Homo sapiens: one gene and its partners. The protein of the gene in region 6 interacts with the protein of the main gene of each other region in a pairwise test. Each region holds a gene or a part of one and is shown on either strand. Other genes may lie near its edges.

Evidence for each region.
Region 1: the proteins of A2M (region 6) and UTP14A interact in binary tests that used the Homo sapiens proteins (3 or more experiments, as listed by UniProt).
Region 2: the proteins of A2M (region 6) and CSF2 interact in binary tests that used the Homo sapiens proteins (3 or more experiments, as listed by UniProt).
Region 3: the proteins of A2M (region 6) and DDX20 interact in binary tests that used the Homo sapiens proteins (3 or more experiments, as listed by UniProt).
Region 4: the proteins of A2M (region 6) and SYK interact in binary tests that used the Homo sapiens proteins (3 or more experiments, as listed by UniProt).
Region 5: the proteins of A2M (region 6) and TRIM69 interact in binary tests that used the Homo sapiens proteins (3 or more experiments, as listed by UniProt).
Region 7: the proteins of A2M (region 6) and STX19 interact in binary tests that used the Homo sapiens proteins (3 or more experiments, as listed by UniProt).

The regions. Positions count from the first base shown.
Region 1 is NC_000023.11:129,909,164-129,912,663, forward strand, and holds part of UTP14A (U3 small nucleolar RNA-associated protein 14 homolog A), read left to right. Parts: intron 1-1,844; coding exon 1,845-1,987; intron 1,988-2,602; coding exon 2,603-2,758; intron 2,759-3,415; exon of another isoform or gene 3,416-3,500. UniProt on the Homo sapiens protein: May be required for ribosome biogenesis.
Region 2 is NC_000005.10:132,072,576-132,076,588, reverse strand, and holds CSF2 (granulocyte-macrophage colony-stimulating factor precursor), read right to left. Parts: upstream 2,801-4,013; 5' UTR 2,766-2,800; coding exon 2,607-2,765; intron 2,509-2,606; coding exon 2,467-2,508; intron 1,780-2,466; coding exon 1,654-1,779; intron 845-1,653; coding exon 737-844; 3' UTR 419-736; downstream 1-418. UniProt on the Homo sapiens protein: Cytokine that stimulates the growth and differentiation of hematopoietic precursor cells from various lineages, including granulocytes, macrophages, eosinophils and erythrocytes.
Region 3 is NC_000001.11:111,754,587-111,758,700, forward strand, and holds the start of DDX20 (probable ATP-dependent RNA helicase DDX20), read left to right. Parts: upstream 1-1,314; 5' UTR 1,315-1,338; coding exon 1,339-1,639; intron 1,640-2,059; coding exon 2,060-2,154; intron 2,155-4,114.
Region 4 is NC_000009.12:90,878,319-90,881,818, forward strand, and holds part of SYK (tyrosine-protein kinase SYK), read left to right. Parts: intron 1-445; coding exon 446-635; intron 636-3,500. UniProt on the Homo sapiens protein: Non-receptor tyrosine kinase which mediates signal transduction downstream of a variety of transmembrane receptors including classical immunoreceptors like the B-cell receptor (BCR).
Region 5 is NC_000015.10:44,757,028-44,760,527, forward strand, and holds part of TRIM69 (E3 ubiquitin-protein ligase TRIM69), read left to right. Parts: intron 1-1,585; exon of another isoform or gene 1,586-1,593; coding exon 1,594-1,827; intron 1,828-2,612; coding exon 2,613-2,635; intron 2,636-2,720; coding exon 2,721-2,845; intron 2,846-3,500.
Region 6 is NC_000012.12:9,105,920-9,109,419, reverse strand, and holds part of A2M (alpha-2-macroglobulin isoform a precursor), read left to right. Parts: intron 1-14; coding exon 15-99; intron 100-1,775; coding exon 1,776-1,896; intron 1,897-2,814; coding exon 2,815-2,929; intron 2,930-3,074; coding exon 3,075-3,184; intron 3,185-3,500. UniProt on the Homo sapiens protein: Is able to inhibit all four classes of proteinases by a unique 'trapping' mechanism. This protein has a peptide stretch, called the 'bait region' which contains specific cleavage sites for different proteinases.
Region 7 is NC_000003.12:94,016,232-94,018,597, forward strand, and holds part of STX19 (syntaxin-19), read right to left. Parts: intron 2,268-2,366; exon of another isoform or gene 2,208-2,267; intron 1-2,207. UniProt on the Homo sapiens protein: Plays a role in endosomal trafficking of the epidermal growth factor receptor (EGFR).

The DNA of each region.
Region 1 (3,500 bases), on a different chromosome or scaffold from region 6:
CCTTTGCTTTTTTATTGCTCCCCTGAGAGGAGCCTTTCAAGCCTTTTTTTTTTTTTTTTTTTTTGAGACAGAGTCTCACTCTATCGCCCAGGCTGGAGTGCAGTGGTGCGATCTTGGCTCACTGCAAACTCCGCCTCCCAGGTTCACGCCATTCTCCTTCCTCAGCCTCCCGAGTATCTGGGACTACAGGTGCCCGCCACCGCGCCTGGCTAGTTTTTTGTATTTTTAGTAGAGACGGGGTTTCACCGTGTTAGCCAGGATGGTCTGGATCTCCTGACCTCGTGATCCACCCGCCGCAGCCTCTCAAAGTGCTGGGATTACAGGCGTGAGCCACCGTGCGCGGCCTCAAGACATTTTTTTCCTCATTGTATCCCTCCCCCTGTGCCCCTTCCCCAGGAAATCAAGTCCTAAGGAATAAGAGTTTGTTGGACAGAGTTGAGCCTTGGAGGGACACAAAACATTGTAATATCTAAGATTTTTTTCATACTCTCCCAGAAAGAACCAATTTTCACCCTGGGGTGGCGGGGTGGTAAAATTGCCCCTGTTCAGAATACATGCTCTAATAAGCGGCAGCCATGGGATTTTATCCTAATACTGAGTCTAGATGCCAAATCTTTTTCACCCTGTTCACAACTTAGGCAGCTAGAATGGGTCTTGCATTTGTAGTAATCACTGGTGTAGCCTCCTAGGGCAAATAACAATGTATTCCAAGCGTACTTATTCAGTGGATATTTATTGTGTTTCTACTAGGTAGCAGTATCAGGAACTGTTGTAGATACCAAGGTTAAAGTAGCGAATAAGATGTGAGCTCATGGGGTTTACATTCTAATGAAGGGAGACAATAAGAGAGGATGATGCAGTAAAGCAACTAAGTGGCTACTTTAGATCGGTTGGTCATGAAAGGCCCCTGAAGAGGCAAAATTGAAGCCGAGATCTGAATGACAAGTCAAGTCAACCATGCAAAGATTGGGGAAAGCATTTCAGGCCAAGGAACAGCTAGCACAAAGGCTCTAAGGTAGAAACATGCACAACATGTTGAAGAATAGGAAAGAGGCCCCTGTGACAAAAGCATTCTAGAGGGTGGGGGTTGATATGAGGTTAGAGAGGCAGATGGGGATTAGATCTCATAGGACCATGTCCTTTAGGTAGATGAGATTCAAAGTATAATGGGGAGTCACTGGAGGATTTTCAGCAGGGTCATGACATGCTGTGGTTTATATTTTCGAAAGATAATTTTGGGCTGGATACAGTGGTTTACACCTGTAATCTCCAGCACTTTGGGAGGCCGAGGTGGGCGGACTGCTTCAGCCCAGCCATTTGAGGCTGGCCTGGGCAACATGGCAAAACCCCATCTCTACAAAAAAAAAATTAAAAAAATTAACCACGCGTGGTGGCACGCGCCTATAGTGCCAGCTACTTGGGAGGATTGCCTGAGCCTGGGAGGCAGAGATGGCACCACTGCTCTCCAGCCTAAGTGACAGAGTGAGACCCTGTCTCAAAACAAACAACAACAACAGCAAAAAGATCACTTTGGCTGTTTTTATTTTTGGCTGTTATGTGAAGAATGAATTGCAATGGGGCAAGAGTAGAAGCACCAGGAGAAAAGCAAATGAGTTTTGAATAAATATTTTCCCCTATCTTCTACCCCCTAACACGTTTGGGGATGAATGTAGAAGAGTGATAGTGTTGGCATGGCTAGAAATAGGCAATTGAAGTAAGAGAATTATTCTTGCTTCTCTGCACATTTGCCATCTACTGGCATTTTCTACTGAGGCTTCTCCCTACATTATATTGAGATCTTGTCTCACTTCTTGGTCTGACCAGAAAGTTTGACCTTTCCACAGGATCAGGAGAAAAGCTGGTCCTTGCAGATCTGCTTGAGCCTGTTAAAACTTCATCTTCTTTGGCCACTGTGAAAAAGCAACTGAGTAGAGTCAAATCAAAGAAGACAGTGGAGTTACCTCTGAACAAAGAAGAGATTGAACGGGTAAGCTACAGAGAAGGTGGTCTATTAAGGGAAAGAAATTGAATTGACAAGGGAAAATAGGGTAATAGAAAGAAGGGAAAGACCTGAAAAATGGGAGAAGGGGGAGTTGTGATTTCCCCACTATGGATAAGATTAAAAATAATCTAGGAGTGCCAGGCGCGGTGGCTCACGTCTGTAATCCCAGCACTTTGGGAGGCTGAGGTAGGCGGATCACCTGAGGTCAGGAGTTCGAGACCAGCCTGTCCAACATGGTGAAACCCCGTCTCTACTAAAAATACAAAATTAGCCGGGTGTGGTGTAATCCCAGCTACTTGGGAGGCTGAGGCAGGAGAATCCCTTGAACCAGGACGTGGAGGTTGCAGTGAGCTGAGATTGCACCATTGCTCTCCAGCCTGGGCAACACGAGTGAAACTCCATCTAAATAATAATAATAATCTAGGAGAAATTGCAGTCCTGAGAAGCAAGAGGACTAGCATCCTGATTCTTTCATCCTGATTCTAGCATCCTGATTCTTTCTTGGGCTAAGAAATGTTGCTTCCTAATTTCTTGTTAGTCCTTTGGGTTTGATGCTTTAATCTTGTGGCTCTTTCCGTTTACATGCCTTGCCTGCTTCAGATCCACAGAGAAGTAGCATTCAATAAAACCGCACAAGTCCTCTCCAAATGGGACCCTGTCGTCCTGAAGAACCGGCAGGCAGAGCAGCTGGTTTTTCCCCTGGAGAAAGAGGAGCCAGCCATTGCTCCCATTGAACATGTGCTCAGTGGCTGGAAGGTGAGTACAACAAAATGAAACTGAAAGGTGAGATTTTATAAGTTGGAGATTTCAGAGCCTGCAATTGATTTGATTGGACATGTTAAGCTAAACCCCAGCATAAGTCATTTTAGCTTAGTGCTCAGAAAGAAGGGGTTGCCCATCGTCATTGTCAGTCATGTGATAGCCAGTCACAATAGCTCTGTGATCACTTTTTTTTTTTTTTTCTTGAGACAGGGTCTTGCTCTGTCGCCCAGGCTGGAGTGCAGTGGCACGATCTCAGCTCACTGCAACCTCTGCCTCCTGGGTTCAAGCAATTCTCCTGCCTCAGCCTCCCAAGTAGCTGGGATTACTGGCGTGCACCAACACGCCCAGCTAATTTTTTTTTTTTTGGATTTTTAGTAGAGATGGGGTTTCACCATGTTGGCCAGGCTGATCTCAAACTCCTGACCTCAAATGATCCGCCCACCTCAGTCTCCCAAAAGTTTTGTGATTACGGGCATGAGCCAATGCGCCCGGTCTCTGTGTCACTTTTCATCTGCTTGTAGTATACAGTACTTGCTATTTCCATGTTTTTGTGTTAAACCATGTGATTGCCCGTATAGCAGGAACATAATAATGTTTTCTTTCTTTTACCCCAGTTTTTAAAAAGCATTTAAAGCCACATTCTGATCCTAGGGAAATCAGGAACTCGATAACATTAATGATGCCTTAGTGAGGATATGTGAACAACAGAAGCCAAACTTTGCTTGTACAGGAATAC
Region 2 (4,013 bases), on a different chromosome or scaffold from region 6:
AGGGCGTGGGGCACAGGGGCCAAGGCCTCTACAGGGCAGGTGTTTTGCCTGATGCCAGAGTGGGCCTGTTCAGCCAGTGACCAGCCAACCCCCAGGCCTCCCCAGGAAGGGTGGTGCCCTTCTCTGGGATAAGAGTTCCCTGGGCTGGTCACTTGGACTTCCAGGTGAACTTGAGAGCCATTCTCTGGGGTGGGAGCCCTGGAGCATCCCGGGAAGCCCGTCCAGGTGTGCAGAATTCCGCACCTATGCCCGGCTCTCACCTCCCCTCTGCTCTGACAGTGTTGGCCCTTGGATAGTGCCCAACGCCTGGGAGGCCCCCGCCCCCTCTCCACCTCCCCGTTTCCTCCCTCCCCTGCCTCATGGGAAGGCAGGCACCACTGGCATTTGCTCATGGTTAAAAACAAACTAGAACACTGGACAAGTAGAAGCATATTTTTAATAATAATTATTACGGTAAAACATCTTGAATAAATATGGAATATGAACTTAAATAAATAAATAAATAAATATTTTAAAAATATAAATATATAAATATTACTGATTTCTGTCAGTATAAAATATTCCCATTCTTCTGCCATGCCTGTATCAGGGTCAGTGTGGCCCAGGGCAGGTCCAGGCCACTCCCACCATGGCTGTGGCCCACCCCTTGGTCCCTCCAAGATGACCATCCTGAGTTTCTAGCTCTTGTTTCATGAGAGAGCAGCTCCCCGGCTTGGCCAGCCTCATCTGGCCGGTCTCACTCCTGGACTGGCTCCCAGCAGTCAAAGGGGATGACAAGCAGAAAGTCCTTCAGGTTCTCTTTGAAACTTTCAAAGGTGATAATCTGGGTTGCACAGGAAGTTTCCTTTAAAAAAAGAAAAATAAAAAACACTTGAGTCCAGGCAAGTGGGTAACGTGGGGGAAGGAAGCACCAGCATGTTTCTCTACTGCCTCTTAGAACTCAGAGGCCAGGAGGCCCACTCCAGGACACACCCACTGACCTGGGTCAGGTGACGCTGCTGCCACCCACGTGTTCCCCAAGGAGTGCATAGCTCTGCCAGTGGCAGCCAGAGTCAAGGGCCTGACTTAAGTGCCAGCCTGAGGTTGGCCTTCTGGGCAGTCAAACGCCTGCCTTTTTGGTCCCAGGGCAGAGCAGGGCAGCTGGGCTGAGGTCGTCTCTGGGCACCCAGAAGGAGTGGAGTCAAGGCCACAAACTTTGCTCCCTTCCCGCAGGAAGGAGTGCCTGAGGTCCTTGTCCATTCCAAGTAGCCTCCCTTCCTTGATCCTCTGCAATTCAAGCACCCCATGTGGGGCCAGAGGAAAGTCCTGCCAGAAGGTGGCACTTGGGCCTGGGCACTTCCTCTGGGCCTTGGGCAGGCCCCAAGTTTCCTTGGGTTTGCCCTCACCTCTGACCTCATTAACCATAATGACAATAATGACCAGGATAGGAGCAGCTCCTGCTGGGGAGCACTGTGGGCTTCAGCGCTCTGTGGCTCTGACTCCTTGGGATGAAATGGGCTGTCTGCCTCCTCTCTGGAGGGCTAATCATTACATAACTGTTGGCACAGAAACCCCCTGGGGTCCTGAACAGCCACAGCCATAGATCTCTCCCCATGTCGACCCCACCCCCTAGATTAAGACATTCCTGCTGGAGGCCCTGCCGTAGGCACTCACCGGGGTTGGAGGGCAGTGCTGCTTGTAGTGGCTGGCCATCATGGTCAAGGGGCCCTTGAGCTTGGTGAGGCTGCCCCGCAGGCCCTGCTTGTACAGCTCCAGGCGGGTCTGTAGGCAGGTCGGCTCCTGTGGAAAATGTCGTTCGTCGGTGAGCAGTGGCCAAGTGCCCACAGTGGTACAAGAACTCTCCACCACTCCTTTTTGCTGCTGCCCCCAGCCCCCAGGAGTAGGGCTTGGGAGGGGCACAGGCTGGGTCCAGTCATAGACCCTGCCCTGTCCATGGCAGGCACGAACCTGCCCTTCTCACTGCCCCGCCCAGGCCACCCTCAGCGGCACCTGGAGAGGAGCCCAGCCTTAGGGAAGGAGGTGACTCTCACCCCATCATTCAGGGAGAGGGGGGTGGGGCCTCACCTGGACCTGCTGGGTGGGCAAGGGTTGTTCCTGAAACCCCTCTGTGCCTCTCTGTAGTCAGCACTGTCTCAACAGGACTTGGTCTCGGGGCACAGTGAGCGCCCCAAACCCACAGCTCCTGTCTCATGAAGTGACCCCCACTTTACCACCTGTCCCCTGGTGACTCCTGGCCATTGAATGCTAGGTCTGCCCATGGCCGCTCAGCTGATAAAGGAGCTCATGTGACTGCCATAGGGGCACGGCCAGCAGCCTCTTGAGCACCCAGTTGCTACCCCCTCCTCCTGCAGCCAGCTGACTGGAGAGAAAGTGGACAACCCTGTGTGGTGCCATCTAAAATGGAGTCCCCACCTCCACCCCAGGGCAGGGGCTTCTGGAAAGCTATGTCAGAGAGAAGCATCTTACCTGGAGGTCAAACATTTCTGAGATGACTTCTACTGTTTCATTCTGTAGAAAAGGAAAATGTCATGTTATCAAGCTGACAGGCGTGGCCAGTCAGGGGCCAGCTGGGTGGCCTAGGCACAGGCCCACATTCTCTCACTTACCATCTCAGCAGCAGTGTCTCTACTCAGGTTCAGGAGACGCCGGGCCTCCTGGATGGCATTCACATGCTCCCAGGGCTGCGTGCTGGGGCTGGGCGAGCGGGCGGGTGCAGAGATGCTGCAGGCCACAGTGCCCAAGAGCAGCAGGCTCTGCAGCCACATCCTCCAGAGAACTTTAGCCTTTCTCTCTGTGTACTGGGCTCACTGGCAAAAGAGCTCTTAAATACACAGAGGAAATGATTAATGGTGACCACAAAATGCCAGGGAGGCGGGGGAACTACCTGAACTGTGGAATCTCCTGGCCCTTATCAGCCACACATGGGAACGGTGAGCCTTTTCCCTAGGTGGTCAGGCTTGGGGGTTTTCATTAATGAACCTTTCCAAGAACCGACAGCCCACCCACCCGCCTTCCTGAGGGCTCTCCAGCCCTCCCTGGGCAGTCTGAATGGGCCTGAGGCTGCCCCCTCCCTCTGAGGGGCACAGTTTGGACTTCCTGGCCTGGAATGGCTGGGGTGGGGCGTGGGAGACACTTAGATAGGGCTCCCCATCCTGCCTGTAATCCCAGGGGCCTTTGGGCAGGCTATGCCCGCCCTGGTGCCTCATTCTGACTCCAGCCTTCCTCTTCTCTGGCCACTGTGAGAGACTTGAGTGTGAGGGGAGCTCTCACAGACCTGCCCCACTGACAGTTCACATGGGCTCCCACCCAGGACCTGGAGCAGGGGGCAACCTCAGTCCAGTAAGGGGGGACCCCTGCCCCTGTGAGCAGAGGGAATGACCACCATGTGCACATCCAGCAGCGAGACTGCAGCCACTCTCAGCAAGCTTCAGAGGGGGTGTGGCTGGGTCAAGTCGGGACCCAGAGTCTGACTCTTGGCTCTGGAGCCACCTTCCTGAGTGACTCCCCTCTCTGGTTATGTGAACCTTGATTCCCTCTGCAGAGCAGGTTTGCCCCTCTGAGGTTCGGACTACACTCCTATATGTAGCCCCCAGAAGACACCAGGAGCTTCAGGCTGGCTCCAGGGCTGTGGCTGCATCCATCTCAGGTACAGGGACAATGGCTTCCCCAGCAAGGCCCTCCAGGCTTAATTTCCTACATAACCCCAGCATCCCCCAACTCCAGAGGCCTTTCTGTGGAAGTGTGGAAGTAGGAAATCTAAAGGCTCTTGAGGGGCTGACAAGTGTTTGATTTTCACAATGGAGTTCAGAGAAGACAGCACGAGTTTGTGTTTGCACAAGGTATCTGGCTCAAGCTGCCCCATGCCTGGGTTTCATAGCTAAAGGGGTGTGGGCCCACACGTGCCCATTTCTGGGTGTATGTGTGCTGCTGTGATTGGTTGTACATACAGGTGCCTGGTAGAGGGGAGGATGTTTTCCATGCAGATGCATCTATTGAGTCCTCTTACCTGCTTT
Region 3 (4,114 bases), on a different chromosome or scaffold from region 6:
TCCTGGCCTCAAGCAATCCTCCCGCCTCAGCCTCCCAAGAAGCTGGAATCACAGGTGCGAGCCACCCCACACAACTAAATTTGGAATTATGAATATGGCTGAGGTCCAGAAATATTTAAATTTGGCATGATGACTAAGAGTTTGTTATAGGAGCTCAATCATTTGATAAATATTGAACATTTCCTATGTGTCAGATTGTTTTTCCCACTAGGGATGCAGAGGAGAACAAGACAGAATAGGTTCTTGTCCTCATAGAGTGTGGGAGACAGGCAGAAGACATATAATTTCAGGTAGGTATAAGTATCATAAAGAAAAAATAAAGCAAAACAAGAGAGTGCTGGGAAAGGCCAGGGAGCAGAGAGGATGACAGAGCTGTCTTAGGGTGTTCAAGACCTCTTTGAAAAGCTGATATTTGAGCAGAAGACCACAGCAAGGAAAAGTGGCAGAGACTGCTAGCTGCCTACGCATGAAATGATGGGGGAAGGAGCAATACAGAAGGCATGTAACATTTGAGAGTCTATTAGGCATCCCAAGGGAGGTGCTGCGGAGGCGGATGCATGGAGGCGGATGCGGAGGCGGATGCATGGAGGCGGATGCATGGAGGCAGATGGATGCACACGTCTAGAGTTTAAAAGGAGATCTGAGGCGGAGATACGAACTTGGGAGCTGTTAGTCCAGTTCCAGGTTCCAATTCAACGTACTTTTATCAGAGCTCACTGTGCGCCAGGGACTTGCTAGGAGATAAATGGGGTTTATCTCACCGGAGATAAATGTGGTTGCACAGCAGATGGACACACCAGCCAATGTGGTAAATAAACCCTTGGGTCCAGCTACGTTCTGCGCGCTCTCTGCCAGCACAGAGGAGCAGCGAGTCAGGGTACGGAGCGGGTAGCGTTGGGGAAGAGGTGGCCGCGAAGCGAGACAGGCCAGCGGAACGGAAAACGGAAGCACGAGACGGGGGCGTGACGCACCGGGCGCATCACAAAGAACGGCGAGAGGGCGGTGGCGCCGGGGGCACGGCTGGGCGGCTCCGCCCAGAAGAGGGCCGAGAGGCGGGGCGGTGCCCCCACCGCAGGCCCGCGGCGCCCTCTGCAGGCCACAGGCAGCGACTCACCAGTTGCCTCATCTTTCCTCTCCTCCCTCTTGGGGCTTTCCTCAGGCCACATTTTTTGTGTGTCTGGGCAGTCTCTCAGCCTCCGACTCCCGTCCCTTTCTTCCACTTCCAGGCCGGGCGTGTTAGTGTCTTCGCGGGAAAACTGCCAATAAAGTTTTTCTTCTTCTCGCTCCCAAGATCCCCGCCTCCCCTTAAGCACCGCGAGATCTGACGGCGCGGCTACCATGGCGGCGGCATTTGAAGCCTCGGGAGCCTTAGCAGCAGTGGCGACTGCTATGCCGGCTGAGCATGTGGCCGTGCAGGTCCCGGCCCCAGAGCCAACACCCGGGCCTGTGAGGATCCTGCGGACCGCTCAGGATCTCAGCAGCCCGCGGACCCGCACGGGGGATGTGCTGTTGGCGGAGCCGGCCGACTTCGAGTCACTGCTGCTTTCGCGGCCGGTGCTGGAGGGGCTGCGGGCGGCCGGCTTCGAGAGGCCCTCGCCGGTGCAGCTCAAGGCCATCCCGTTGGGGCGCTGCGGGCTCGGTGAGAGCGGGGGCCCGGGATAGGTCGGGGGGTGGGGTGGGAGAAGGGGGACCGACGGGCGGCGGCGGCCAGGCCCGCGCCGCAGCTCAGGAAGAGCCCTCGGTCGGCCCCCGGAGCAGGGCCCTGCCGGGGGCTAGGCGCTACGCTCAGTTAACTTATTTGTAAAACTAACGTGCACTATTGAACTTGAGGATAGTTAAGACCTTTTTTTAAGCACTGACAAATGGTTCTAAGTTTGAGAAGATAAACGGTAAACGTTCAGGGACTAGGCGTGTTCTCATACGTTTTTGAGAATCAACTAAAAATGAAGGTGCCAACTAGGGGAATCTCAGGAGACCCTTCTAGTTCTCTGATTCCATGTTAGCCCCTAAGTTGCTTCAGTGAGTACTGGCTAGTGATAATTGTTTTTTTCCTTCGCAGATTTAATTGTTCAAGCTAAATCTGGCACCGGGAAAACCTGTGTGTTCTCCACCATAGCTTTGGACTCTCTTGTTCTTGAAAACTTAAGTACCCAGGTGAGTTAGCTGAGAGGACCAGAGGAGGATGTGTTTTGTGGACTTTACCACAGGTCAGATGAAATACCAGTAGCTCCTCAGAGCTGGAAGTGAATTTGATGAATGATTGAGTTAAGTGGTGGTGGTGGCGAAATTTGGAATTTTCTATGCGTACCTTATTTAAATAGAATAAAGCTACCATATATGTCAATTTTGTCACTACTTGGTAATACAGACAGGGATTCTTCTTTTACTTACTGACTAGATTAATGTGAGACTTAACATTTGACTTGATTCATGGTAATGTAGTGCTCTGGCTATTGTTGGTAACTGCAGAGTTTGTTTTTTTTTTTTGAGACGGTGTCGCTTTGTCACCTAGGCTGGAGTGCAGTGGCGGATCATTGCTCACTGCAACCTTGAACTTCTGGGCTCCAGTGATCCTCCCACCCATCTTCCTAAGTATTTGGGACTACAGGTGTGTGCCACCACACCTGGCTAGTTCTTGTATTTTTTGTAGAGATGGGGTCTCCAGTGTTGCACAGACCAGCCTTGAACTCCTGGGTTCAAGCAATCCTCCCACCTTTGCCTCCCAAAGTACTGGGATTACAGGCATGAGCCACCACAGCCGGTATGCAGGTGGTTCTTAAAGCTCTGTAAATGTATCATATTGATCTCCCATCTTCCAGGTTGTCTTAGAGTGTTTCTAAGATTGCCTTACCCAAATTAGCAGGAAATTTGAGTTTGGGGATCATTTCTCCAACAAAGGTTTGTTGAGTCCGTATTACGTATAAACAGTGTGCCAGGCATTGGGGATTCAAAGATGAATTAGATGTGATTCTCATAGCCTTACTTGGTAGTTTAGTTGTTATGGCAGACTGTATTTCAAGTTCTCAGGCATTGGTATATCTGATGATGAATCTTCAACAGTGGTTTTTAACCCAGATATCCATGTTCATCACCTGGGAAGCTTTTTGAGTCCATCTTATGTCTACCAAATCCTAGGTGATGTTGCACATTGGAAATCCTCCTACTTCCCAAGAACCTGAGTTAGTCTAATTGTAGACTAAGATGTATTTGAGATTTTGGCTTCTGACAATTTGGCAGCAGATAAAATGCTGAAATCCTGGAAAAGTTTCATCAACTCATTTTTTTTTGAGACCGAGTCTCACTCTGTTGCCCAGGCTGGAGTCAGTGGCACAATCTTGGCTCACTGCAACCTCTGCCTCCCAGGTTCAAGTGATTCTCCTGCCTCAGCCTCCCGAGTAGCTGGGATTACAAGTGTGCACACCACACGCCCGGCTAATTTTTTTGTATTTTTAGTAGAGACGGTGTTTCGCCATGTCGGCCAGGCTGGTCTCAAACTCCTGACCTCAGGTAATCCACCTGCCTCAGCCTCCCAACATGCTGGGATCACAAGTGTGAGCCACCATGCCCGGCAAATTCATATTTTTAATTTCAGATCTTTGGATTATGAAAATTACATTATTCTCTGTGTGTGTATCAAAGTAATACATATTCATTTTTAGAAATAGGGAAAATTCAGAAAAATTAGGACGTACCAGAAAACAAAATCTGTAATCTTACTACCTAGAGAGAAACTGCTATTAACAGTTTTGGCATGTTTTCTCCTAGTCCTTTTTTTTTTTTTTTTTTTAAATCAATTTTTTTTTCTTGTAGTTAAGAGCACAAAGTTTTGTTTTCTCCTCCTCCAGTAGTTACATTGCAAAGTTTTTACCATGACTCTCAAGGTCTTTTGTGATCTAGTCCCTGGAGGTAGATCTCTGACCTCCTTTACTTTCCCCTGAATTCTGTCATGTGGGCCTTCTTTTTCTTCCTCAAATACACCAAGAACACTGCCATCTTATGGCCTTTCCATTTGCTGTTTCCTCTTGGTGAAAACGCTTCCCCAGGGGTCATATAGCCAGCTCTACTCTATGCCATTCACGTAGGTCTCTGCTCAAAGTACCTCCTTTGAGGAGGT
Region 4 (3,500 bases), on a different chromosome or scaffold from region 6:
GGCCACCGAGGAGCTTGCCTCATTTGCTGTGCTACGTTTGTACTTAGATTGTCTCTTTAGTCTCCATGGAAGGGAGGTGTTCTTACCCTGACTTTGTAGGTGAGAAACTGATTCTCAGGGTTAGTTCTGTGACCTGTGTGATACTGGAACAAGGATTTGAGGTGGTGCCTGGCTATCTGTGAGCCAGGCCTGACTACTCTGTTATACTGCTTTTCTTGCAATTCCAAGCATGCCAGGAAACTCAATCCCATTGAACACCAGGAGAATATGGCATTGAGTCCTGAAGAGCTATATGCTAACAAAGTTATTTGTCACCACTCGTGAGTTTTGTTGTTTAAGAAGAGGGAAGGAGTAGATTCACCCACTGCCTGCGTGAGGAGCATGGTTGTTTGTTGTGAAATGGGTCACTGTCTGTTATAGCTGATGAGATCATTATGACTTTCAGACATGTCAAGGATAAGAACATCATAGAACTGGTTCATCAGGTTTCCATGGGCATGAAGTACTTGGAGGAGAGCAATTTTGTGCACAGAGATCTGGCTGCAAGAAATGTGTTGCTAGTTACCCAACATTACGCCAAGATCAGTGATTTCGGACTTTCCAAAGCACTGCGTGCTGATGAAAACTACTACAAGGTAAGTACAACTTAGCTAATATTCAGAGCAGCAGGTGGTAAAAAATGCAAGATAAATGTACGTTTTCTTTATTTTATTATTGGTATGGTTTCAAAAAGCAGTTTTGCTACTGAAAAATAACTATGTAAGATATGTTCTTATAATCTTTGATTTTACTGTTTAAAAAATAAAAATAATATCACACCTTGAGATTTACTCAAAGTAGTATATTCTAAATTATGTTTCATGGAATGATCAGGAATCGAGGTATTAAGTGAAGATTTGTTTTGAAAAAAGAAGAATGGGATTCCTTCATTAAGTTAATTTGAAAAGTTTGCATTGGACAGCTTGATTCTTGCAGGATTTCCCCGAAGCCCTTTTCATGCTACTTAACATTACGAATCTCAGTAGAGGGTTTACTGCACTGCATTTCTCAAACCAGATTCATCCATGGCATCCTTTTCTGATAGGACATTTCATAACATGTGGTGGAACACTGTCCCACAGCATGGAGCTATTGGAGCTTGGAGCTCCAGTACTGCAGTTCAGAGCTCCAATATTGCAGCTTGGAGCTATTCCAAAATAACTTTCTAATGAACACCTACCTATACATGCAAAAGTTAGAAAGTGAAGATTTACCAAATAAACTCGTCATCTGTGTATGTCCACTACATATGTAGAAATTGTTCTATTGGCTTAACTGGTATCCAGAAGAGTTGAAGTGTCAAAAAATAGATGCAGTGCTGGAAAGAAGAGATCTAGATAGTTATGTGACTGAAGCTAAAAGAAATATGCCCCTTGGTTTGGTGAGGCAGAGATTATCAAGAATTAAGGGTGGACTTCCAGCAAAACATAAAGTAGAAACTAGTTCTGGGTGCAGGTTTGGACTTCCTAAAAAATAATTTCACAGTGACCAATCCCCTTGCTAATATAACTTGACCCCTCTCTGAACCCTCAAATGAACCAATAACAACTAAAAGAAGAAAAGATAAGAAAGCTCTATCTTCATATTAACTCATCTGTGGTGTATACCTAGGGTCTATGTTAACCAACTGGAAAACGTGATGGCACCAATCCCACTGAGTCAAAGAGGGTGCCGAAGGCAGGTTAACAACCCTGCTAGTCTCTGGTGAAGTCCACATGCTCAGAAATAGATGGCAGACCTTCAAAATCTACCTAGTGGGTGGCAGATAGGATCCTGTGTTTCATGCCCTGCAGTGGTCAGAGACCCCACCCTGAGTGACAATACCCACCCACTCACCTTTCCCTAAGAGGCAGTCCATGGACTGGTAGGTGATGGGGAATGGTGGACCTCGGCCAGCAAAGGGACTGCATGAAGGGTAAGCCACAAGAGCCAAGCTCCCAGGCAGGCAGGCAGACTCCACCATCTTGAGCACAAAGGCCAGGCGAGAGTACAGCAGGGGTCAGGCTGGCCCTCCTCACCCCATTCTTCATACAGTAGCTTCCCAGAAGGAAGCCCCTTCAGAGGTGAACCACTGTGAGAAAGGCATCAGCATGGGCCTGGATAGAAATAGCAGGGAAACAGAGCAAGGAAGACAGCAGCCTAGGATGACCAGCATGGGACATGCTGGAGAAAGAAGCCTGTTGTAATGCTGGATGTACCTCATCATGATCATTACAGAAAAGAAGACAGCCTGTCTGAAACAAGGACACAGAGGAGATAGAGAAAATGAAACATGAATGCTGGGCACCTTATCCACTGCTGTATAACAAATCACCCCAAACTTACTGCCAAAAACACCACCAGGTGTTGGTTTCCCTGCCGTCCTGCTGTGTGGGCAGGGCCAGGTAGGCAGGGTTCAGTGCGTCTGCTCACACAGGGGATTGCACAGTGGCCCGAGGGACAGGAGGACCGTTTCCACTCTGCTCACTCACACTACTCAGCCACTGAGCAGCTGGTTAGACACAGCCCATGCTGGAGACCTCTGCGGGGCTGTCAGCCAGCTCACCTGCACATGGCCTCTCCTTGGGGCCCTTGGGCTTCCCTTGGGCCCATGCTTCCCTTGGGCAGCATGGCAGCTGCGGGCTGAGAGCAGTTACCCAAGAGGCAGGAAGTGGGGGCTGCCAGGCCTATAAAACCAGGCCCAGAAACTACCTCAGGGTCACTTCCACCTGATCCTATTGGTCAGAGCAGCCAAGGCCACCAGCTTCAAAGGATGGGATAGATAGAACCACCCTTTTGAGGAGAAGTGTCAAAGAGTCAAAGAACATGGGGCCAATTCTAAAACTGCTGTAGATATTAAACAGCATACCATTAAAAAGTAAACTAAACTAAAAAGTAAACCAAAGATTGTCTTTGGACAATCAATGAAGAAAAAAAGCCACTAGGGAAATAAAAGCCATCTTGGAAGCAGCAAAAAGAGACAAAACTACCGAAAAGATAGGGTAGTGGAAGATTTCTGTATGAAAACAAAGCAAAGTGAAATGGAAAAGAATAAAAAGTGGGCCGGGCGTGGTGGCTCACGCCTGTAATCCCAGCACTTTGGGAGGCTGAGGTGGGTGGATTACCTGAGGTCAGGAGTTCGAGACCAGCCTGGCCAACATGGTGAAATCCCGTCTCTACTAAAAACACAAAAATTAGCCAGGCATGGTGGCAGGCACCTGTAATCCCAGCTACTCTGGTGGCTGAGGCAGGAGAATTGCTTGAGCCCGGGAGGTGGAGGTTGCAGTGAGCTGAGATCGTGCCACTGCACTCTAGCCTGGCCAACAGAGCAAGACTCTGTCTCAAAAAAAAAAAGGAATAAAAAGTGAAACAAGATCAAAGAAAAGTGCTAGCTGTGGAAGCAAACGAACGCTGGCACTCGGGAAACCATGCGTGACAGGGTAGATTTGTGCAGCATCACAACTGAAAAACACAGGTGTTCT
Region 5 (3,500 bases), on a different chromosome or scaffold from region 6:
ATTGGAAGTTCTGTTTCTTTATTCATTATTCTATGGAGAAGAGCCTTCTCAGGTATTTGGCATCTGGAAGAAAAAAATATGCAGACTCAGGGAAAGAAGAAGGATATATGGAAGTAATGATGTCTTCAGAAAATCTTGTTCCTTTTGTAAAAGTTCCTATTAGTGTGAGCATTCATTCATTCATTTAACAAATATTTATTGAGTGGGTCAGGCATAATACTAGATATTGGGGATGGGAGACAGCTGTTAATTAAATAATCCCATGAGTAATAATAAAATAACAACTGTGATAAGTACTATAACTGAAAGTATAGGGTATGATGATAGCATATAAATGGAGAACATAATCTAGACTGGGGGAGGGGTGTTCTCTGAAGAAGTCACATTAAAAATTGAGAATTGAAGGATAAGTAACTTATCCAAGTGAACTGGGTGAGTGGGGATATGAAGGAGGTAGCCTGGAGAAGAATGTTCTAGGAATAGAAAAGAGTATCTGGAAAAGTCCTGAGATGGAAAGTTAGCTGCTATGTTAAACAGAGAAAAGGCCAATAAAGCTGGAACATGCTAAGCAAGATGATATTGATGAGGTGGATATGGGCTCACTGTAACCTCATACTCTTGGGCTCAAGAGATCTTCCCACCTCAGCCTCCTGAGTATCTGGGACTAGTTTGCCACACATGGCTAATTATTTTATTTTTGGAGAGACTGGGTCTCACTATGTTGCCCAGTCTTGAACTCCTGTTCCAAGCAATCCTCCCAGCTTGGCCTCTATAAGTGTTGGAATTACAGGTATGAGCCACTGTGCCCAGCCAAGACTATCTTAAGGTGCAATAATAATTATGGACCATGGGATCCAAGCTAGATAAGAGAGGACATGAAGGTAGAAGTTCCTGAATAGAAATGGAGGGATCGGTGAATAGGAGGTTTCAATGAGATCCAATAATTGTTGCAATAGGAGTATCTGAGTGAGCCTGGTGCATAAAAAGTTATTTTGGAGATGATACAATTGCTGGGGGTGATAAAATCCTAGGTGAGACTATAGGAATGAATCAATAAATGTGGAAATCACTAGAAATGAGGAGAATGAGGAACTGAGAAGCCAGGATGTCAAATAGTTTAACTGTGAGGATGTTGAGGTAACCCAAGGAAAAAGCTGCAAGTGTAACAGTGGCATTCCCCCAGTTCTGATTTCTAGGTAAGGACAGTTCTTCCAGCCTCCCAATACCCCCAGTCTAACAGTACCACTTGGCAGCTTTTGGATTACCAATCTAGGAGGGTATTATCTTTCATTCTAGAATGTTTGACTAACTCCACAGTCTTATTTAATATGGCATTGGTTACCATCTCAGTACTGCAATAGGAAACTGGAGGTCACTTTTGCCTATTTCATCCTGAACTATTAAATTAGTTGGAAAAGGAGTAAGTCTCCCAAAGGACTCATTTTAGTATGACTGAATTTGATATTCAGTAGCCATTTGTATGCATTTTTCTGTGATGGTATTTACCAAGTGTGTGAGTGTTGGTGGTGTGGGCCCCCATCCCCAAGCACTAGTCTCTGCAATAACCATGGTGATAATCATGGAGGTTTCCAGGAAAACAAGCTACATCTGCAGCAACATGTGTCCATGGAGTTTCTAAAGCTGCATCAGTTCCTGCACAGCAAAGAAAAGGACATTTTAACTGAGCTCCGGGAAGAGGGGAAAGCCTTGAATGAGGAGATGGAGTTGAATCTGAGCCAGCTTCAGGAGCAATGTCTCTTAGCCAAGGATATGTTGGTGAGCATTCAGGCAAAGACGGAACAACAGAACTCCTTCGACTTTCTCAAAGTGAGAATCCACACCAATATGATTATGGGTACCTTCCTACCTAGAGGGGGGAAGAGGTTTGGAAAGAATGCGGAAGTGGCTTTTCACATCCAGGGAAAACAAAACAAAACAAAACAAAACTGTTATAGTGCTTTTAAGATTCTCTGGAAGAAAAGGAGGAGGCTGCTTCAGCTATACGCACAGCAGAAAGCTTTACTTTCATCCTCTTAGGAAATACGATTTTTAAATTCCATTAATAATAGTATATAGTAATGGTTTAATATTTTTCCATAAAGAGCTTGATGCTTTATTTCTCAAAAATAAAAATGTTGCAGCCTGAGTTGTATCTTTGGCTCTCAGCAATCATAAGCTGACCTGTCTGAAAAGCTGTTTTCTAACCTTTGCTTTCTTAAGCTTCACCTCTAAAGAAGCGTTGGTTACCATCTCAGCACTCAGAAGTTTAATTAGCTAGAGTAAGGAAAAGTGGCCTTGGGACTGGGATACCTAATGTGTTTTTCTTCTGAGACTATTTGAAAGTATAGGTAAAGATAGCTTAACCTTAAGTATTGTCTTATTGGCTTCTGTCTTGCTCCCTGTAGAAGAGAACTCTAGAAAGAGCAAAAGATCAATTTAACCTGGGTTAGGATCAGGGATGAAGATTAGAAAAAGTGTATGAAGGATGAAAGAAGTTGGTAGAGATGAGTTCGGGACCATCTGCACAAATTCTGGTGGTGGCTGGTATCACCAAAGAAATTTTGAGAGTTGATGAACGGGCATCTGATGTCTCTCTTTCTCCTTTCTTCTAGGACATCACAACTCTCTTACATAGGTAAGTGTTTCCCTATGGTACTATTAATATCATTCCTTGAGTCTCTGGAGGATGTCTAAGGATAAATGATTTATGTGCCCTGCAGCTTGGAGCAAGGAATGAAGGTGCTGGCAACCAGAGAGCTTATTTCCAGAAAGCTGAACCTGGGCCAGTACAAAGGTCCTATCCAGTACATGGTATGGAGGGAAATGCAGGACACTCTCTGCCCAGGTATCAGTGGGTAGTAACTATTGGTTCTTGAGGCTCCTAATCTACGTTTAATCTGTGGGACTTCTTCTGTGGCCCTAATTAAGTTTTTACAGTCTGGGATAGGGAAGGGGTACAGTTTGGCCAAAAGGAGGCTAGTTGGTATGACTGAATTTCTTCTAGTACCATGACCTAAGAATTTATGACTTTGTGCTGGTAAATAGATATGAGTTTGATATCAGGATTACTTCTTAGCATATGATTTTGACTGATTTATGAAATGTGGCAACAGCCAAAATTTTATCTTGTTTTGCTAAATCAGCTATATGAATCCCAGGGGCTTCTCTGAAGAAGGAGGAGGTTTCTGAACATACTCTTTTTATGTACACTGGGTCTTTACAGTTTCTTTTGTGCTTGATGTTCATAGCGTAGAACATTTTAGAAGATTGTTTAGATCTTCAGTGCTTCAGAAGAAAACCAATAATTTAAATAAACATACCTAAGAAGGACACTAAGTTTTTGTGTTCCTGTAGATACCAAAGGACTGAGCAAGATAAAATAACACACATGGCATTTCAAGAACATCAAATAAAGTTCTAAATAAAAATCTTTATAGAAATAAAATTCTAAATAGAGTTTTTATAGAATTCATAGACTCATCATTATTATTATTGTTTAT
Region 6 (3,500 bases):
TCACCAATCAACAGTTCTTCCCAAGTTTGAAGTACAAGTAACAGTGCCAAAGATAATCACCATCTTGGAAGAAGAGATGAATGTATCAGTGTGTGGCCTGTGAGTTCATTTTTTAAAAATCTTTTGTGGGGGATTATTTAAAAGAGACTCACCATTTGGGATATTTTAACTACTCTCTCCGGGAGCAGTGGCAACACAAAAATTTTAAGTGCTTTGACAGCATCCTCATCTGTAGAATGTTATTCTCCTGTTGCTTTTCTATTTTTATTTTCTTTCACGTTCTTATCAGTATTATTCTATCATGAGGTAAGAAACTGTTTCTAGAGAGGTTATGCTAATAGGATTGATTCTGAAAGTGACAAAACTGCACACACACACACACACAAAATGGGAAGGGTGGATAGTGTTGAAGGGTATTGGTTCTGCCTTAACCAAAAATAACCAAACGTATATTAGGGAGATAATTAACACATGGCTATAGGGGAAATTCAATCATCAACAGATCATTTACCTGACCTTGCATGCTTACTGGAAAAATCACTTAGATTCAGAATTTGTAGAGATAGGCATACAACTGAAATCTCATCTAACTCACTAGTCCACCTAAGGCGGGTCTACATACCTGTCTGCACTGACATTTTTACGAAGAGACTGAACGTGATTTCTCAAGACAGTCTGTTCCAACCTTGAAAAGTCTTGTTTCCTGGATCTTATGTTCCCATCCATGGTGGCACACAGTAGCAGTAGCAGGAAGAGCAGGTATAGTCCTGTCCAAAGATCACACATGTAATACACCTACTATTCAGCTAGGCCCCTGCTCCAGTTCTGTCTCACAGTGATGGCCAAGTTCCTGGTTCCTCATAACTGGTGTGATCTTGCAAATAGACATACAGAGGACATTCTCAAATAGGAAAGGAGACAAATGCACTTGGAAACCCAGCAATTGTCTATGACATATTTACGACACAATCCCACTTTTGTAAAAAAGTAAACAGGCCCGGCGTGGTGGCTCACGCCTGTAATCCCAGCACTTTGGGAGGCTGAGGTGGGCAGATCACGAGGTCAGGAGATCAAGACCATCCTGGCTAACATGGTGAAACCCCGTCTCTACTAAAAAATACAAAAAATTAGCCAGGCATGGTGGCCAGCGCCTGTAGTCCCAGCTACTTGGGAAGCTGAGGCAGGAGAATGGCATGAACCCAGGAGGTGGAGGTTGCAGTGAGCCAAGATCGCACCACTGCACTCCAGCCTGGGCGACAGAGCGAGACTCCATCTCAAAAATAAAATAAAATAAAATAAAATAAAATAAAATAAAATAAACAAGTGAAACTCGATATAGAGATGGCTGCACATGGGGAGAGGATGATGGAAGAAGAGACACTATCGTACTAATAGTTTGTATTCCTAGGTAGACTTGAGGGCGTTTGGGTTTTTTTTGTTCTGTTTTGTTTTGTTTGTTTCGTCTTGCTGGTATTGTTTCTCTTTTAAGAACGGGTTTAAGTTTTATAATAAGAAAGACTTTTTTAAGATAAAACTAAAAAAAAACGAGGAAAAAAAAGAAATGATAAAAGAAGAATGTAAATTTCAGCATGTTGCAATGGAGATTTCTATAAGAGCCATTAGTGACTCTTGTCTTCAATATTGTGTGAGCCCAGCAGAGAGCAGAGGGAAGTACAGACAGGGAATATACTGTAGCTAAAGGGGAGATATAAATAGCTAGAAAATGGGGAGGTTCAGTGTCTGCTCTGATTCCTTTGGGAATGTTCTCATGACAGATACACATATGGGAAGCCTGTCCCTGGACATGTGACTGTGAGCATTTGCAGAAAGTATAGTGACGCTTCCGACTGCCACGGTGAAGATTCACAGGCTTTCTGTGAGAAATTCAGTGGACAGGTAGGTTGAACACTATTTTTTCTAGAGAATAGCGATAAAGGCATTGTTGAAAAGCAGTGAGTTGCAGCATTTTTCTGACGCAGGAAGAGAACAATCTAGAAGAGAATTCCATGTTGGCTATTGTAATTTTTCAAAAAAAATCATGAACTTAGCACAATGGGAATTATTTATTTCTCGTAATTGCCCATTGTGAGTGTTTCAGAACGATAGACACTGAGCCATCTAAAGCCTCCATGGGCATTCACTTCTACAAAGGAAGGAAAAAACCATACACCTCTTAATTGCCTTAGCTGGCCAGGCCATCAGTTCTGCTCTCTCTGTGAACAAGAACCTATCACATGGCCCCACCAAGATGCCAGAGAGTTGACAAACACAGTCCCCATATAGAAGGCCGCTTCCCAGCCACAGCTGAATATTATGGAGGAGGAACCAGACTTTGATGAGGAGTTCTAATGGTCAAGAGCAGATGTACTGTGTATTTCAAAATAGCAAGTGGACAGGACTTGAACTATTTCCAACACATAGAAATGATACATACTTGAGTTGGTAGGCACCCTAAATCCCGCGATGTGATCATTACACATTCTCTGCATGTAACAAAATATCTCGTGTACCCCATAAATATGTATAAATATTATGCATCCTTTGTACAAAAAAAATTACTCCTCAAATTTTAAGACATTTCTATCGCAATATATCTAGGGAATTTCAGATACCAAGGAATACATCTGTCAATTATACATGAGATATTGTTGTGAAATTTAATATTTAGTTGCTAGAGAATATTTATTGTGTCCTCGTCATAGAAAATGCCTACATGATGTTGTCCCCCCACAAAAATCACACCGGTTATCTGACCACTGATCTATTTAGTATAATATGCATTATATTTTTGTATTTTATTTTCTCCCTTCTTAGCTAAACAGCCATGGCTGCTTCTATCAGCAAGTAAAAACCAAGGTCTTCCAGCTGAAGAGGAAGGAGTATGAAATGAAACTTCACACTGAGGCCCAGATCCAAGAAGAAGGAACAGGTTTGTGTACTACATGGGTATAAGAGAAAACACAACAGGCATTGATTTTCTTAGCCAAATAATGAATTGTAAGTTGGGGGGAGGTGATAGAATTTTAGAGACATCATTCTTCCCAAAAATAACAGATTTTTTTCTCTTTTTTCAGTGGTGGAATTGACTGGAAGGCAGTCCAGTGAAATCACAAGAACCATAACCAAACTCTCATTTGTGAAAGTGGACTCACACTTTCGACAGGGAATTCCCTTCTTTGGGCAGGTGGAGTATTTTCCAGTTCACTCATCAACCCATGTACTGTTACCTAATTAGCACAATAGTTATGGTTTGTGCTAAAACCATGCCTGGTTAATGTTATCATTTAATATAACCAAAAGTATAAAATATCACCAAGGCTTGATTAGTATAACCAAAGGTATAAAACTACATAAAAATAGATTTATTCTTCTGTAAATTTGTGTATGAAATGTATGTAATTATCCTAAGGCCTTATTAAAATTAGTAGAGTTTTCCCCCCTTCTTTTGAAACAGCATTGTACAAGTCACTCAATCTCCTTCTCATGGTTTACCAGGCAGT
Region 7 (2,366 bases), on a different chromosome or scaffold from region 6:
TAAGAAGAGGCTGTTAGGGAGTACAGATAGCTCATTGGACCACATATAATATTAATATCAACCAGAAAAAAAAGGTCTCTGAATGTGATGCTGTTATGCTGTAGGACTCAGTGTTTGATATGTTTATGGAAATATTTCTATTAATCTGGATGTTGTCATAGGAGGCATACTTAACAAATGTGTAGATGGTGTAAAATTTGGAGGAATCTTTAGTATGTTGAAGTACAGGGTAGGGATTCAAATATTAAAATAGTGTGGAACTTTATACTAAAAATAACAAAAATATATTTAACAGGAATAGATTTAAAATATTTCATCTAGCTATAAGAAAAATATTTTCGTATCTACAGAGTAGAAGACCCTTGGGTTCACAATAGTGTCTATGAAAGTATTGGAGATTTTAATTAATTAAGCTTTCTTTTTTTTTTTTTTGGAGATGGAGTCTTGCTCTGATGCCCCGGCTGGCATGCAGTGGTGCGACCTCAGCTCACTGCAACTTCTGCCTCCCGGGTTTAAGTGATTCTCCTGCCTCAGCCTCCTGAGTAGCTGGGATTACAGGTGCCTGCCACCATGCCCGGCTAATTTTTGTATTTTTGGTAGAGACAGGGTTTCACCATATTGGCCAGGCTGGTCTCAAACTCCTGACCTCGTGATCCGCCCACCTTGGCCTCCCAAAGTGCTGGGATTACAGGTGTGAGCCACCGCTCCCAGCCTAATTAAGCTTTCTGTCAGAACCATCAGAATAGTCACTATGCTTTTATAAATAATAGTCTGATGTATGGATAGACTAAACTCTGCCAACTCTATGCTATTCAGAGCAAATTGCAAGGGTAAGGGGAACTCAATAAACTTCTGAGCATATTTTGAGATGGAAGTTCTTAAGTTAGGAATTACCAGACTAGCATGGAAAGGATGAGATTGGAAAACCATACCAAATGGAGACTCATTGAAATAAATGGTAATATTTGTCCTGTAAAAGAGAAGATGTAGGGTGTGTATACAGCTGTCTTCTAAACAAAGGTCTGTGTATGCAAGTGAGATTAGACTTACTTGGCATAACTCCAAAGGGCAGTGGGTGGAAATTACATGGAAAGAGGTTTGATTCAATATAAAGAAGACTTTTCAAACAAATATTGCTTTCCCAAGATGAAATGAGCTGCTTCATGAGGTGCTGAGTTTGCCATCACTGGACATTTTCAAGATGTTCTGGAATGATGACTCCAGGCAGGCATGTTACAGAAATGATGCCTGTTTTGGGTAAAAGGTTAAACCAATGTCCTGGTAATATTCCTTTGGTTTTAAAGGACTGGTATTTTGTGAAATAGTCATTGAAGTCTTATATGTATATAAGTTTTAAATGCTGTAATATATATTTAACATTTTCTGTCCTTGAGGAATTTATAATTTAGGGTGAGAAGGACAATATACAATTTAAAAGATAAACGGGATAATTTTAGGTTTTGATACAATAATCAGGCAGGGTCTCTAAGCAGATATTTGAGATGTGAGACTGAATGTTGAGAAGCCAGGCAGATGAAGAGCCGAGGGAGTGTATTGTAGGTCTAGGAGTTGGGTTGCCAAGGCAGTGAATGAGACTGATATGTTTTAGGAACAGAGTTATTGCATAAGAACAAAGTGAATGTAGATAGAAAGGAATGAGAGGAGTAACATGGGAAGAATGAAGTAGAAAGGTAGGCATGGACCACATCATAAAGGACTTGTGGGCCAAAGGAAGGAGTTTAGATTTTATTCTAGGTGCAGTAGAAGACAGTTAAAAGATAAATAGGATATTGACATGATTTGTATATATTTTTTCATTTTGATATGTAATTTAAAAAAATTTTAAACTGATACAGGGGTGTCCCTATGTTGTCCAGGCCGGTCTTGAACTCCTGGGCTCAAGCCATCTGTTCGCCTTGTCCTCCCAGAGTGCTAAGATTACAGGCATAAGCCACCATGCCTGGCCCTGATTTATATTTTTAAAAGATGTTGTTGCTTTCTATATAGAGAATAGTTTCCTGGGGAGGGGGTGGGAGTAGTTCACAGAAGAGACTTTAATGATAGAGATGGAGTAAATGGGAACCATCAGGATATATTTTTGAAACTAGAAGCAATAGGACTTGATGATTTTAACCCATCAGCACTTAACACAATCATTTCTTGAGACACTTTGAAGAAAAGTATTTCTCCTGTTTTTTTTCTCTTACCTTTTTGGCTCTTCCTTTATCACTATTTTCTTTTTCCTGGCTACTCCTTATCTCCCCCACCTGTAAATATTGGAAGATTTTAGACTGAGTCTCATTTTTATCCATCATCATTTTTTAGTCTCATGGCATTAAATGCTGTTTGTAAGCTGATGACCCAAA